4 linked regions of the Homo sapiens genome follow. The protein of the gene in region 3 purifies or fractionates together with the protein of the main gene of each other region. This does not show direct contact. Each region holds a gene or a part of one and is shown on either strand. Other genes may lie near its edges.

What was found. The genes of interacting proteins can lie anywhere in the genome.
Region 1: the proteins of CDC37L1 (region 3) and RELCH fractionate together in Homo sapiens (co-fractionation; one large-scale study listed by BioGRID). This does not show direct contact.
Region 2: the proteins of CDC37L1 (region 3) and CHORDC1 purify together in Homo sapiens (affinity purification with mass spectrometry; one study listed by BioGRID and IntAct). This does not show direct contact.
Region 4: the proteins of CDC37L1 (region 3) and NIBAN1 fractionate together in Homo sapiens (co-fractionation; one large-scale study listed by BioGRID). This does not show direct contact.

Annotation. Positions count from the first base shown.
Region 1 is NC_000018.10:62,193,755-62,197,254, reverse strand, and holds part of RELCH (RAB11-binding protein RELCH), read right to left. Parts: intron 1-3,500. UniProt on the Homo sapiens protein: Regulates intracellular cholesterol distribution from recycling endosomes to the trans-Golgi network through interactions with RAB11 and OSBP.
Region 2 is NC_000011.10:90,206,050-90,209,549, forward strand, and holds part of CHORDC1 (cysteine and histidine-rich domain-containing protein 1), read right to left. Parts: intron 762-3,500; coding exon of another isoform or gene 699-761; intron 224-698; coding exon 153-223; exon of another isoform or gene 152-152; intron 1-151. UniProt on the Homo sapiens protein: Regulates centrosome duplication, probably by inhibiting the kinase activity of ROCK2. Proposed to act as co-chaperone for HSP90. May play a role in the regulation of NOD1 via a HSP90 chaperone complex. In vitro, has intrinsic chaperone activity.
Region 3 is NC_000009.12:4,678,215-4,682,368, reverse strand, and holds the start of CDC37L1 (hsp90 co-chaperone Cdc37-like 1), read right to left. Parts: upstream 2,801-4,154; 5' UTR 2,602-2,800; coding exon 2,470-2,601; intron 1-2,469. UniProt on the Homo sapiens protein: Co-chaperone that binds to numerous proteins and promotes their interaction with Hsp70 and Hsp90.
Region 4 is NC_000001.11:184,807,009-184,810,508, forward strand, and holds part of NIBAN1 (protein Niban 1), read right to left. Parts: intron 1,228-3,500; coding exon 1,066-1,227; intron 1-1,065. UniProt on the Homo sapiens protein: Regulates phosphorylation of a number of proteins involved in translation regulation including EIF2A, EIF4EBP1 and RPS6KB1. May be involved in the endoplasmic reticulum stress response.

The DNA of each region.
Region 1 (3,500 bases), on a different chromosome or scaffold from region 3:
TGCTTCCTTGTAGAGTACCACAAGAGGCTGAAATGTCATATTGTATTTTTGCAACTACCCCAGTGGAAACACCCTATTATATGGTAAGCAGATGATGGTAAGCAGGGAGTGTCATGTTCCCAGATGATGTTTTAAACATGAAAAAATACAAGAGCTATTATCTTTCCTTCACCTGTACTTCCTTTTCCTTTCCTTACTCAGGATAAAGAGTCTAAATATAGCCAAATAATAAAGTTACTATTTATTCAAAATTTTACCCACTCTGGAGGGTCAAACTTAACTTTTACTTTCCCCACAGGCCCATTTCATTTTCACAATCAACAAAGATTTTTCTATAACAGAATGTTTATATTCTGTAAACATTATCTTTGCCACAGGAGACTATTCTCAAATTCTTTCATGTGTTAGTCTTACCTCTCCATCAAGAACATAAGCTCAAGGATATGCATTAAACTTTTAGATCGCTGTAATCCTTAACTGACCACAATGTTTAATAAATATATCGATGTAAAAATACTGAATACCAACTATATTCAGGCCACCATGCTAAGCAGGGATTATATCTAACTACAGGAATAAATTTGAAACAATTGGAAAGACATAGGAAAGAAAAATGACAGTTACACAGTAGATATATTTAGGAACGTCTATGGCCCAGAGAATAGTGGAAAGTCTAATTCAGGTAAAAGCAGTGAACTTAATAAATTTTAGAAATGTTGTGATGGGGCCGGGCGCAGTGGCTCACGCCTGTAATCCCAGCACGTTGGGAGGCCGAGGCAGGTGGATCACTTGAGGCCAGGAATTCAAGACATGCCTGGCCAACATGGCAAAACCTAATCTCTACCAAAAATACAAAAATTAGCCAGGTGTGGTGGTGCGGGCTTGTAATCCCAGCTACTGAGGAGGCTGAGGCACCAGAGTCACTTGAACCCAGGAGGCAGAGGTTGCAGCGAGCCAAGATTGTGCCACTGCACTCCAGTTTGGCCGACAGAGGGCGACTATGTCTCAAAAAAAGAAAAGAAAAGAAAAGAAAAATTGCGCTGGTATTTTCTCTCTCAGAAAGCAGAGGAAACACTAAATCCAATCCCAACTTAACAGAGGGGAACTACTTTATAAAGTAGAAGGGATGAAAAGTTTGTAAGAAAGCAATCGTGACATCTTAGTGTTGGCGATGCTAAGAAAGGAACACCGAGCATAGTTAGATATATGCTTTCAGAGTTCTGAGAAACGATACGTTGGATCATGAAAGAAAGATTTTAGGCCAGGCTTGGTGGCTCACGCCTGTAATCCCAGCACTTTGGGAGGCCGAGGCGGGCGGATCACATGAGGTCAGAAGTTTGAGACCAGCCTGGCCAACGTGGTAAAACCTGGTCTCTACCAAAAATAAAAAAATTGGCTGGGTGTGGTGGCATGCGCCTGTAGTCCTAGCTACTCGGGAGGCTGAGGCAGGAGAACTGCTTGAACCCGGGAGGTGGAGATGGCAGTGAGCCAAGACTGCACCACTGCACTCCAGCCTGGCAGAGGGAGACTCCGTCTCGAAAAAAAAAGAAAAAAAAAAGGAAGATGATTTTGGAAGGCTGCAAGCTCATAGGTGAAATGATTACATTCAAACATAAATGACTACCTCCTGTTAGCTGCCTTATAAAAATCTGAAGGCATGGTAAAAGAAATCTATCACCAAAAGGCATGTTAGTTGCCCTCTCCACTTGATCACATTACATCTCTACTGTGCAAAGAACTGGGCTAATCATAAGAAATTACAGTCTAATTTTGATTAGAGCCCTAATGCTTCAAGCAGAAAAAGCATTACTCTTGCTAAGTTACTATAACCTGCTCAGTGTTCATCAATGTCATTACCACAATTTTTATCTTGCAATGTAACTAGAAAACAAAGTACTGAATGGAAGCTATCCTGGCTCACCTGGCAAAAATACAGTGTATACACACACACACACACACACACACACACACACAGAGTGTGTGTATATTCCAGCAAATAATATTACATATAAAAGATCTAATTGGTTCATCATGTAAATTTAGTAGGAACATTACAACGATGCTACAAGAATTTATCCAAAACTGAGATTTCCTTAGAATATCTGTTAAAAGTAATTTTATTCAGTTAATAGAAATTCTATTGAAAACATCAAACTTATAAAGCTATATATCCTGTTCATATTTGAATGTTTTGTAAATATGGATTATTCTTATAATCAAGAAAAAAATTAAACAGTATGAAGACTTCTTAAAGTATGTTTAAAAGTACAACTATATTACAGTATTAAGTCAACAGTTTTAGGGAGATAATTCACTAAATCTAAAATTATAAAGGTTAATAGGATTGCATTGTTCTTAAACATCATTAAATAAAGAAAACCACTTTTTATTATACATTTATTGTTCTGAAGTATTCTGAATTTTCAGATCAGACACATATCAATCAAAATATATACAAAAACAAATCAAAATAATGTTTTAGATAATCCATACTACCAATCTTTAAACCGTTTATAATCAACCAACAAGTGCTTATTGAGTATTATAAAATCACATCCAAGTAGTATCAATCGACATGCTAAAATTGAATATATAGAGGACCTTTAAAAATAGGCAGTAGCCCTGTCCTAGACAATATAATTTGTGTGATCAGGAGCTTAGTTGAAATCTTCCAAATACAGTACTGAGCACAGTTTTATACAAGTATTTTAAAACTGTACTAAAGTTTGTACTATAAATGTCTACATGTTTATAGGAGGAATATTTAAGAAATATTTCTTTTCTCCTTTATGATACCTTCATTAAAATACGGTTCCTGCCGCCATAGACCTAATTGTAAAAGTCAAAACTATAAAACTTGTAAGAGAAAATCTTTGCAACTCTGGGGTAGGCAAATGTTTCTCAAAAGGACATACAGAACATAAATTATTAAAGAAAAAAACAGTCAACTGGATTTGATGAAATCAAAAGCTTTTGTTCACAAGACACACTGTTTTTTGGGGTTTTTTTTGAGACAGGGTCTCGTTCTTTCTCCCAGGCTGGAGTGCAGTGGTATCATGGCTCACTGCAGCCTTGGCCACCTGGGCTCAAGCGATCCTCCTATCTCAGCCTCTCAAATAGCTGGGACCACAGGCATAGGCCACCATGCACGGATAATTTTTGTATTTTTTTTGTAGTGACGGAGTTTTGTCATGTTGCCCAGGCTGGTCTCAAACTCCTGGGCTCAAGCCATCTGCTCACCTCATCCTCCCAAAGTGCTGGGATTACAGGTGTGAGCCACTACGCCTGGTCTGAGACACATCATTAAGAAAATAAAGGGAAATCAGACTGGAAGAAAATATTTGCAAAATTCACATTTGATAATGCACATATAGAGAACTCTTACAACTCAATAATGAAACAAAACCAACATGTAAAAAACCTTAATTTAAAAAAGGGCAAAATACTATCCCTGATGAACATCAATGCAAAAATCCTCAATAAAATACTGGCAAATCGAA
Region 2 (3,500 bases), on a different chromosome or scaffold from region 3:
CCCCTGTGTTTGTGTAGGCTATTGTGAAGATGTTAATGGCAATGTAAGTAAAATGCCTAATAACACTGCATGGCAAACAATGTTTAAAGACAGAAAGGTTTAACTTTCTAAATTCTACCATAAACTATTTTAATAAGTCATGCATAAGTTACCCCTCATGGAAAATAGGTACTCCAGAATGATATACACAGACTTCTTCTAGACTCTCTAGACCCTGGTATGTCTAAAAAGGAAACAAAGAGAAAAAAAATTAGCTGCGTATCTTACAGTTACATCTCATACATATTTGCAGTATTGGTGACCTCTACGAACTTTGCAAAATACTTAAATGACAATTACCTAGAAAATTCATAAATCCATCCCACGCCATTCTGTTAAAAAATGAAAAATGATTCCCTTTTGGACTTGGTTAAGTTTTAGGTTCCTTTGAGAAAGTCATATTAAGATGCTTTCAGCCTTTTGAGTATGAGATCCCATCCAATCATATTCAAGTACTTACTTAGTTACTAATTTCAAAAACAATGTTGAAACCAAGGGATTAATACTCTCAATAAAAATACAGTTACTGCATGACTTATGTGTACAGTAAACTCCATGTAAGTATTGTCAAATAATATGAGAAATCTAATAAGCAATTCTGGAAGTTCTAGAGTGATGGTGATTTCTTATCCCTATAAAGGGTAAAATGAGCTGCAGACCTATATATATATCCAGGGTTTGTCTGGAAGATCCGGGCCCCATTGCTGCTGTAGATGGAGGCTCTACAGATGAATTCACAAAAAATTATGTTAATAAAACATGGATGTAGCCAGTAGTATATTTTCTATTTTTGTATTTATAGCACTACCTACAAACAGAAAATAAAATTCTGTGTTTATCTTTTATAAATCCAAAGTACAGTATTAGATGTGTATTTCTCCTTAAGATATTTCACAAGAACATAAAACTCAGTATGTTAGCATCTACTAAACTTAATGCTATTGCCCCCACAGTCCATTCTTTTCCCCATATTATTTGATGGCACCGTACAGACTCAGTTTCTCAAAGCAAAATCCATTCGTTCCTCTTCAGCATCTCCTCTCCCTCCACCCATAGGCAGTCTATAATGAAATCTCATCAATTTGACTTGAATATATTAATTTGTTAATCTTCCTCATAAGCTAGCAGATTTTAAGCAATCAGACTATACTAACAGGTTTCTACTATTTCTCAGCCTTCGACTTCTATTTTCTACTAATTATCAAATTACTATCACCCTTTTGTTTAAAGTTCTTTAATTACATCCATGTCACACCTTATACAATAATCAGTTCCAGGTCATTTACATATTTAAATGTGCCTCCATATGAGAAAACACTCACAGCCCTGAAGTAAGCAACGATTTCTTAAATAGAACATGGAAAGCACTAGTCATAAACAAAATGATGGACAAATTGGATTTTGTTAAAAAGCAATTTGATAAAAAGTTTATCAAAGTCGTCATTAAGACAGTGAAAAAGCATAGAATTTCTGATAAGAGTCACAGCTAAAATATATAAAGAATTCTTACAAACTGGTAAGCAAGAGACATTAGAGATAGGTAAAAGATTCTGCACACTTCACAAGAGGATATACAAATGGCTAATAAACATACAAAAAAGCAGTCATCATTAGGGAAGTACAAATCAAAACCATGACAAAACACTATACACACACTAGAATGGTTAAAATACAAAAAAAAAAAAAAAAACAAAAAAAACTCGTATAACAAAATGTTAAGAAACCATAGGACAAGTTGAACTAGCCTCACATACTGCTGGTAGAAACGTAAACAAATACAACCACCTTGGAAAACTATGTGGAAGTATCTGTTAATGCTAAAGATATACAGGTGGGCATACCTAATCCAAAATCTCAAATGCTCCAAAAATCTGTTAACTTTTTGAGAGCCAACATGACAGTTAAAGAAAATGCTCATTGGAGCATTTCAGATTAGGGATGCTGAACTAACTGATAAGTATAATGCACATATGCCAAAATTTAAAAAAAAAAATCCAAAATACTAGAAATGGAAATGTGTATATGTGTCACAAAAGTCATGCACAAGAATGTTCATAATAGGCCGGCTGCGGTGGCTTCACGCCTGTAATTCCAGCACTTTGGGAGGCCGAGGCGGGTGGATCACCTGAGGTTCAGGAGTTTGAGACCAGCCTGGCCAACATGGTGAAACCTTGTCTCTAGTAAAAATACAAAAATTAGTCAGGCGTGGTGGGCACCTGTAAACCCAGCTACTCAGGAGGCTGAAACAGAAGAATCGCTTGAACCCGGGAGGCGGAGGTTGTAGTGAGCCGAGAGCCTACCATTGTACTCCAGGGTGGGTTACAAGAGTGAAACTCCATCTCAAAAAGAATGTTCATAATAGCATTATTAAAAACAATTTTTTAAAATTAAAGGACAATATAAAGTAGAAATTAGTTGTGGCACATTCAAATAATGACATACCTTAAAGAAATAAAAAAACAAAACTAAAGCTACATGCAACAAAGATAAATAAAACAAGCATTATTATGCAGAAGACGACAAAAACAAGTACATATTCTATGGTTATTTTTACATTAAACTCAGAAACAGAAAAAACATATGTTGACTGACAGAAAAACATTTGAGGAAGATAATGAATGAGAAAACACATAAGGAGTGCTCTGCATTGCTGGTGTGTTTAATTTTGTGAAAATCCCTTGAGCTACAAATTTATATTTGTATATCCTTTAACAAACTTCAATGTTATATTTCAATGAAAAAGACTAAAAAATTCTTCAATTTCAATGGCCTCCACACTCTAACGTACAATCTAACTTCCCTGCATCACTAAACCCTTTTAGGATCTGGCCAGGTCTACTTATCTCTATTAATCTCAATTCCACAGCAGCAAATTTGTACCATTACATAATTTTCTCTATACTTGTGCTATTACTTACGCTTGAAATACCCTTTCTCTGTTTTCCCTGTCATTCACTTTTCAAAACACATCTGATACCTTCTCCTTGATCTTCCTCTATTACCCTACCATTTGCACTGCCTTCCCCAATCCAGTAATTACTAATTCCCTTTTATCTACTACTTCTACCTCATATACATGTAAATACAATTGTATCTCCATTCCTTAAGTGATCTAAAATTTAACATGAGGAAAAAGTATAAACCTGCCCCCACCCCATTTTCACCTTGTTGGTTAATGGTGTCACCAATCACCCAGATGCTTGAATTCCCTTCACATCGAATCCATTAGCAAATCCTGCTAATACAGGCAGATGCTCCTTTGCTTACAATGTGGTTATAGCCTGATAATACCATTGTTAAGTCAAAAAAATCTTAAGTTACACCATGGTAAGTTCGGAACCATCTGTACTTTCTGTACTTTCAAATTCTATCATTCATTCTACACGCACTGTTCTAAGGATTCAAGATACAACAAAGAAAAAAAATCCCTATCCTCACAACTTTTACTCAGCATGGGGGTT
Region 3 (4,154 bases):
GGTGACACAGCGAGACTCCATCTCAAAAAAAAAAAAAAATTAGCTGGGCACAGTGGTGGGCACCTGTAATCCCAGCTACTCAGGAGGCTGAGGCAGGAGAATCACATGAGCCTGGGAGGCGGAGGCTGTGGTGAGCCAATATCGTGCCATTGCACTCCAGCCTGGGCAACACAGCAAGACACTGCCTCAAAAAAAAAAAAAAAAAAAGAGAAAGGATAATATATCAAGAAAAGTAATATGGTAATATGGATAAATAGAAATTATCTTGCATTTTCAAATTATTTGGGAGCAAATATTCTTTTCTCAAATCGAAAAATTCTAAAAATAATGTATGTCTTATTTCTCCACAAACTACCCAGACAACATTTGGCCATTTGGGCAAACTATCCAACATGTATTCAGATATTAAATAAAATATTAGGTCACATTCTAATCCATGACCATACAGAAGTTTTAGAGGGACATTAAACATGATCTGCCTTTACATTAATTGGATCTAAGAACTACATATCACATACTACATTAAGAAGTCTAGATCCCCCTTATTTGATAAAATTAAGCCAAAGCTTTTTTTAGGATTATAAAATGTTAATCAATTAAACATTTTATTTTTTCCAAATATTCCAATCCAAAAATTTAAGTCTTAAAGCCAGTAAGACCAATAAGTAGGTTTGTAATAAACACATGAACTCAGAATTAATAATCAGTTTGCAAAAAAAATTTTTTTTTTTGAGACAAGAGTTTCGCTCTTGTTGCCCAGGCTGGAATGCAATGGTGTGATCTCGGCTCACTGTAACCTTTGCCTCCAACAATTCTCCTGCCTCAGCCTCCCGAGTAGCTGGGATCACAGGCATGCGCCACCACACCAGGCTGATTTTGTATTTTTGGTAGAGACAGGGTTTCTCCATGTTGGTCAGGCTGGTCTCGAACTCTGGTGGGCAGTGCAGTAGGTGGGAAAATATACTGGACTAGGAGTCATAAGTGGGTTCTAGTTTTAACCTGGCCACTAACTAGTTACATGGCCTCAGGGAAAACACTTTTAATGAGAGAGATAAGCTTACTCACTTCTAAAATCTCTTCCAGCTAAACAAATTTAGAAGTGCACAAGTAAGAAATTAACATACAGATATTTCTCTAGATTACTTCTGTAATTCAACCACAATGCACTGAAATTCTTGACACCCTTTTTTCTCTTCATATGCCTTCAAAATTGACAATGGCATCTGCTGTTCATTCTTCTTTCCTCCCTAGCACATCATGTGCTTATAATACATTTTGTATATAAAGATGACACTAGTGATCCAAAATTAGTGGGTGACTAATGATGGACCCATCAACTCTCATTCTGTCCTCCTAAAAAATGTCTTGTAGTTCCCCAGTGACTTAGCTGGCCAAAGTACAGACAGTGGTTATGAAACAGCATTTTTCTCTGTGTGAAGCCAACTAACCCTGTTAGCTGGACATAAGATTGATAATGTCACGCTTACTGGTAAGCAATTTAACTCATTCTCATTAACATCTAGCAAAATAAGTTGAGAGGAAAACTACTATTAAATCTGTTACACTCTTGGGAACCCCATTTTGCAAGAAGGCGGCAGACACTTATGATCCATTGAATATATTAGTGTTTAGTCTGTGATTCTGAAATATACTTCCAAAACACACACGGATTCGGAGAAAAAAACAGGACAAGGTGATGCGAGTATGTAAGTATCCCCTAAGATAGGTCCCTGAAAAATCCTTAATAGTATATCACATTTGGATACGTTTCAGTCGCAGGAAGGCAGGAATGCTGGATTGAAAACACAATACCAGGAACCTAAGAGAAGTCTGAAGGAAAACACAAGTATATGCGTATATATTTTCACTGGAGAATGACGTGAAGCAAAACTAAAAAACAAAACAGTAAGGCAAAGATGGTCACGCGAATGGGAGAGGTGTACGCCAGCGTCAAAAGCGAGATTTAAAGAATTTACTCAGTTGTCAACATCGGTGAAAATCGCATGTGAAATCTTTGTCAGGACTCAGTGTGATGCTGAACTACAATCATTCACTGTTCCTAGCAACTGTGCACAAGTATGCTAGAGCCTTTAACAGAATAAAGTGCTTGGGGAAAACCTCTCACAAGAGGACAAAGGGTCAATGTTACAGCATGAGCCGCCCCAAATCTGAGTGCTGTCAGGAAGGGGAGATGGAGGAAGGTATTCCAAGAGTGAACAGGAATCAGCCAAGGCGAAAGAAAACATGTGCGTGGAGGTGGAGGTTGGTAATATATGGCCACCCCGTCTGCCCTCCGAAGATGCCATAAAAGGGGTGGGATGGCATCAGGCGTCAGGTCCCAGGTCCCCGGCCCCTGGCAGTGAGGTGGGCGTAGAAAAAGGCGTAGAAGAGGGTCTGGGAGACGCGGCATTCCAGGGGTTTGGCGACAGCACCACTCCATCCCTCCGCAGAACGCAGGCCCCTTCTCACCTGGGCGCCGCCGCCTGGCAGCTGCGGGCAGCGGGGAGAACTGGGGAACACGTCGAAGTCACTCTCTTCCTCAGCCTCACCCTCGGCCCGAGGGAGGCTCCAGGGTCCCGGAGGCGGCCACGGTTGTTCCATGTCCGGCTGCTCCGGGTCCTACAACCGCCCTTGGCCCTACAACTGCCACTGCCAACAGACTTGGCGTGAATGGAACCTGCTGCGCCGAGCCAGAAGCCCAGCCGGGGGTCCGGGCCGTTACCCAGAATCCCTCTACTGGCCGCGACGCCGCTGCACACCCGGCGACAGCCTGGGCCTCGCCACCGGCGGACGGCGGAAGAAATAGTCGGCGCGGTGCGTCACTTCCGGTTGGGGCGGGGCTGTGGAGGCGCGTCCCGGGCCCTTTGCGTGTAGTGGGTGGATCTGCAATTGTATTCCTGTTTCAAGCCCCGTTTTCTTGCAGCTCTTCGGCACTGCAAACCTAACCGCTAATGGCGCTGTGGGTGGAGAAACGTTTGTTAGGTAGCGTTATATATTGTTATCTGGTGTTCCCTATACCGAAAACGGCGGGTCCTGGCCGCCGGGAGGTACTCAGACCAGGTGTGCACTTTACATGTTGCTTAAAAATTGCAACTCATTCCTTTACATTGACATTTAAACCAGTGATTCTAAGGCAGAGTTGGGGCGGAGGGAGGAGAATTTTGAACAAGCGGAGCCAATTTTCGTCTCATTTCTAATTACAGGCAACAACAGAATTCTGCGAAACTTGGTTGGTTGGAGGAGCACACCAAAAATAAAGTACCGGAGCCGGCACGGCTTCAAAAAAATTAGGATCAGTACCGCTAGTAGCGAACGCATAAGAAGGGCTTCCTGTATGCCTGCGTATCTTGTTTAAGCCTAAAGATATGTACTCTCTTTATCCTCTTTTTTTGAGACGAGGAAGTAGACCCAGCATGCCCGAGATCACACATTTTACAAGGAAGAAGTAGGATCCAGACCCAGGGAGTTTAACTTCAAAACTTGAACGTTTAACAATCAGGTCTTGCTGCCCTACTCATAAAGAGACCCAAATAAAAACAACATGACGCCATTTTTTTCCATGTGTTTAGACTGGCAAACTTGTGAAGTCGCTTAATACCAAATGTGTACCAAGATGTAAGGAAATGATGTGAGAATGTCATTAGTATAACCTTTTAGGAGGAGTAATTTGACAATATGAGAGGCTTGAGCGGATTGATTCAGCAATTTCACCACTAAGAAAGTATGCAACAATTATTTTTGCACCAATATCCAAAGATTTACTACAAAGATTTCTGGCAGCAATTTTTGTGTGTGTGTGGCAAGAAAAAAAAAAGCATTCTAATTGTCCATCGATAGAGGAACTTAAAGTATGGAATATTAATACAATGGCATATTACCCTTTTTAAAAAAAGTAAATTGTATCTGAATATGCTGATATATAAATACCTCCAAAAGGTATTGAGTTTTAAACAAAGCAACTTGCAGAATTAAACATATGCGTACGTATACAGAGAGAGAAGAGAGAGGGATGGTATTTGTTTGCGTCCGTGTGTGTGTGTGTGTGTGTGTGTGTGTGTGTGTGTGTTTGCGCAGAACATTCCTGGAGGATATGCAAGAAACTGTTAATGATTACCTCTGGTGGGTGAGCCTAGGAAGGAAAGCTTCTGAGGATC
Region 4 (3,500 bases), on a different chromosome or scaffold from region 3:
ATCCACCCGCCTCGGTCTCCCAAAATGCTGGGATTACAGGCGTGAGCCACTGTGCCTGGCCACAATATATACCTTTATCATACCTTCAACATTGTAGTGAATTTATCTAAGAATTTGTCTCACTCAAGCTCCCTGAAGTGGGATCTGGTACAGTGTCCGGCCCACAGTAATCTCTCCTCAGAATATCTGTGTGAAATGGCATGGTGTCCTTTAGAGCTTTGGTGACCGTACCCCTTATTCATTTAGGAAACACTATAATACGGAAGGAGTTTGTGCTATTCATTCCTGTTACTGGGGAAAAGGTTCCTTATGAAAAAAAAAAAAAAGAAACCTGTCAAGTAGACTCAAGAAATTCAAATATGAAGCTGTGATTGATTGATTGGTTTACTCTTAATTACGTTAGGGAATTAATTTAAGCCAGTGGCTCTCAATCCTGGCTGCATATTAGAAACAGTAGGAATCAGGGTAGGGAAGTTCTATCAAAAAGTAGCCATATAGGCTGGGTGTGGTGGCTTATGCCTGTAATCCCAGCACTTTGGGAGGCCGAGGTGGGCAGTTCACTTGAGGTCAAGAGTTTGAGACCAGCCTGGCCAACACAGTAAAAACCCCATCTCTACTAAAAATACAAAAATTAGCCAGACATGGTGGCACATGCCTGTAGTCCCAGCTACTCAGGAAGTTGAGGCAAGACAATCACTTGAACCCGGGAGGCAAAGGTTGCATGCAGTGAGCCAAGATCATGCCACTGCACGCCAGCCTGGACATCAGTATTTCCCCCAGGTGATTCCAATGTGTAGCCAAGGTTACAGCACTGATTTGACAAATCAAGTAGTTATCAATTAATGCTACTTTATTTTTCTGAGCTATGTCTTGTCTATGATGTTCATCCACATGGATGGAAGATGAAGCCAGTGGAGGGACAGAACGTGTCCTCCCGCAACATGATGGCTAAAGAGACGCGACGTATTTCCCTGAGCTACACTAGCAGCTGGTCTCACTGGCCAGCACCCATTTCTCTGCTCTCTCTTTACCCTCATCCACCACGGATGCCCCTGCCACACCCACCTCCTGCATGTAGTTCTGTGTCCTCTGAACCACCAGATCAATGTGGGGGAATCTGAAGCGGCTCTTGAGATCCTGCAGGCGCTCGTGAAGCAGGTTGACTTTAGTATAACAAGGTTCCATCTTCACGGAATGCAGCGGAAGATTCATAAGCCGGTCTAGATGCTGCATTTTGGTGAAGGGAAACATTAAACACCCTCAGAATGAGGAGCGGTATTGCATATATATTGCATATTACATACATTCTAAGCAATCAAATGCAAGTTGTTAAAGTGAATCACTACTTGGATCCCTACATCTGTGACACCTTCAACTGTCTTATTTTCCTCCTGCAGTGGGTTCCTAGGGTAGCTGTAATGCTAGGACAGAAACCAGCAGAAACACCAACTGGATGAGAGGAAGACCCAGCGGTGCACCCACGGGGACTCCAGTCTTTGTAAGCTGTTGATGGACTCTAATCTCCCACTTCCAGAGCTCAAGAACCAGACAGGTAGGCTCTGATACGTGGTTGCTGCTGGGCCCCCAGGCTTCCAAAATCTTCTTTAGTGAGTGACACTCCTCTCAAAAAACGCCAGGGAGGTCAGGATGCTCCCTGGACTCCTGGACTTTGGAAGGGAAGCCAGAGTTCCTCACAATTCTATGAGGATCTGCCAGGGCCCACAGGGCTTCTCTCTGCTATAGGTTGCTTTAGGTGCTAGTGGATGGGAAGTGGATAGGCAGAGCCCTGTACTGGGAGAGGTATCCAGTTTGAAGAACTGGGGTCCCTCCTACTCTAGTTTGCACTCAGTCAATGAGGCCATTGGGCTTCCAGCATCATACCTCACCTGCTAAAGCCCTAAAGTGTTATCAACAAATGTTGTTGCAACAGAATGCATTCTGTTTTCCAAGCTTAGTTTAAAATCATTTTTTAAAGGAAATACTGGAGGTTTAAAATAAACAGGGGAATGGGTGGAGCAGAAGAAGGCAGAAAGAAAGGTTCTGAAAATGGAGGCTCTAGAGAGAACTGGGGAGTGAGGCAGGTTACATATGAATAATATAAGATGCACTGTCCGACTTTCAGCTCACGCAGAAGAGATAATCTAGATTTCTAGATTTCTCTAAACAGGAATTTTAAGAGGGCCCACTCTCATTATGCTTTAAAGGGAAAATACTGCTCCCTTTATGAAGTGAGTTATGGAGAGGTCCACTGAAGTGAAGTAAGGATCAAAAGCATGCTGTGGAACTTGCAGCTCCTCACCAAATGGAATGTGTCTATTTTTAAAAAATATCAATTAAGCAGACAGAAGAGGAAAAATGGGTTCCCACTTTGCTCCTATCAGATTGGCAAAAGTTTAATCAAATGATAACACCTATAGCTGATAGCAGTATGGGGGAGAAAGCCCTTATCATACACAATTAGTGGAAATGTAAAATTTAAATCCTTTTTTTTGAAATGCAATGGAAACATTTTTTAACATGAGAAATGTACTTTCAACCTGGCTATCTTGTCTTAGGAGAATATACTATAGAAATAAATACATCAGGGTATATGTGTGTGTATATATATATATACACATATATATGTGTGTGTGTATATATATATACACATATATATGTGTGTGTGTATATATATATACATATATATGTGTATACATAAAAATATTAATTTATTATGCTTTATTCATAATGCCAGCAATATTGAGATGAATGAATAAATCATGGTGTATCCATACATGAAACATCATGCAGCCATTACAAAGAAAGATTTAGAGCTAAAACAGTTACCTTGGAAACAGTTTCATGGGGTATTTTTGGAAGAGAAACTGATAAGCAGAGTAATGTATAAAATATAATCCCATTTTTCTTAAAGCAGACAATCTAAAGTCTAGCCTCTAAGGGTGTGTTTTATGTGCTAGATAAGAATGGGGAAAATACAGAATGGCATATGCTAAGTTGTTAACACGAGTTGCTTGAGGGGAGGAGGTGGCATTGGGGAAGGGGAAGAGTGAAGACAAGTAAAACAAAACAGGCTGCAATAAGAAACCCCAAAACATTTCTAAAATGATCCTGTTAATGCACAATTATATATGTGTATATATGCATAAAGAATAAAGGAAAAGAAATAGAGACATCTGGTTTTATCTACTGACTTGTAAGGATGTTCATCATGATATGTCAAGTATAAAACCAAGCTGCCAATTTATATCTTTTTCAGTGATTCTTAAACTGTAGGGTACACCAGAACCTCTGGAGGTCTTGTTAAAACAGACTCCTGGGCACTACCCCTAGATTTTCTGATTTAGTAGATCATTGGTGGGGCCCGAGAATTTGCATTTTTAACAACCAGGTGATGATGACACTGCTGGTCTGGGGACCATACTTTCAGAAATATTGATCTGTTAAAGCAAACTAAATACAGCCTGAGAAGGACTCCATACTTCCATATTTTAGTCCTTGTG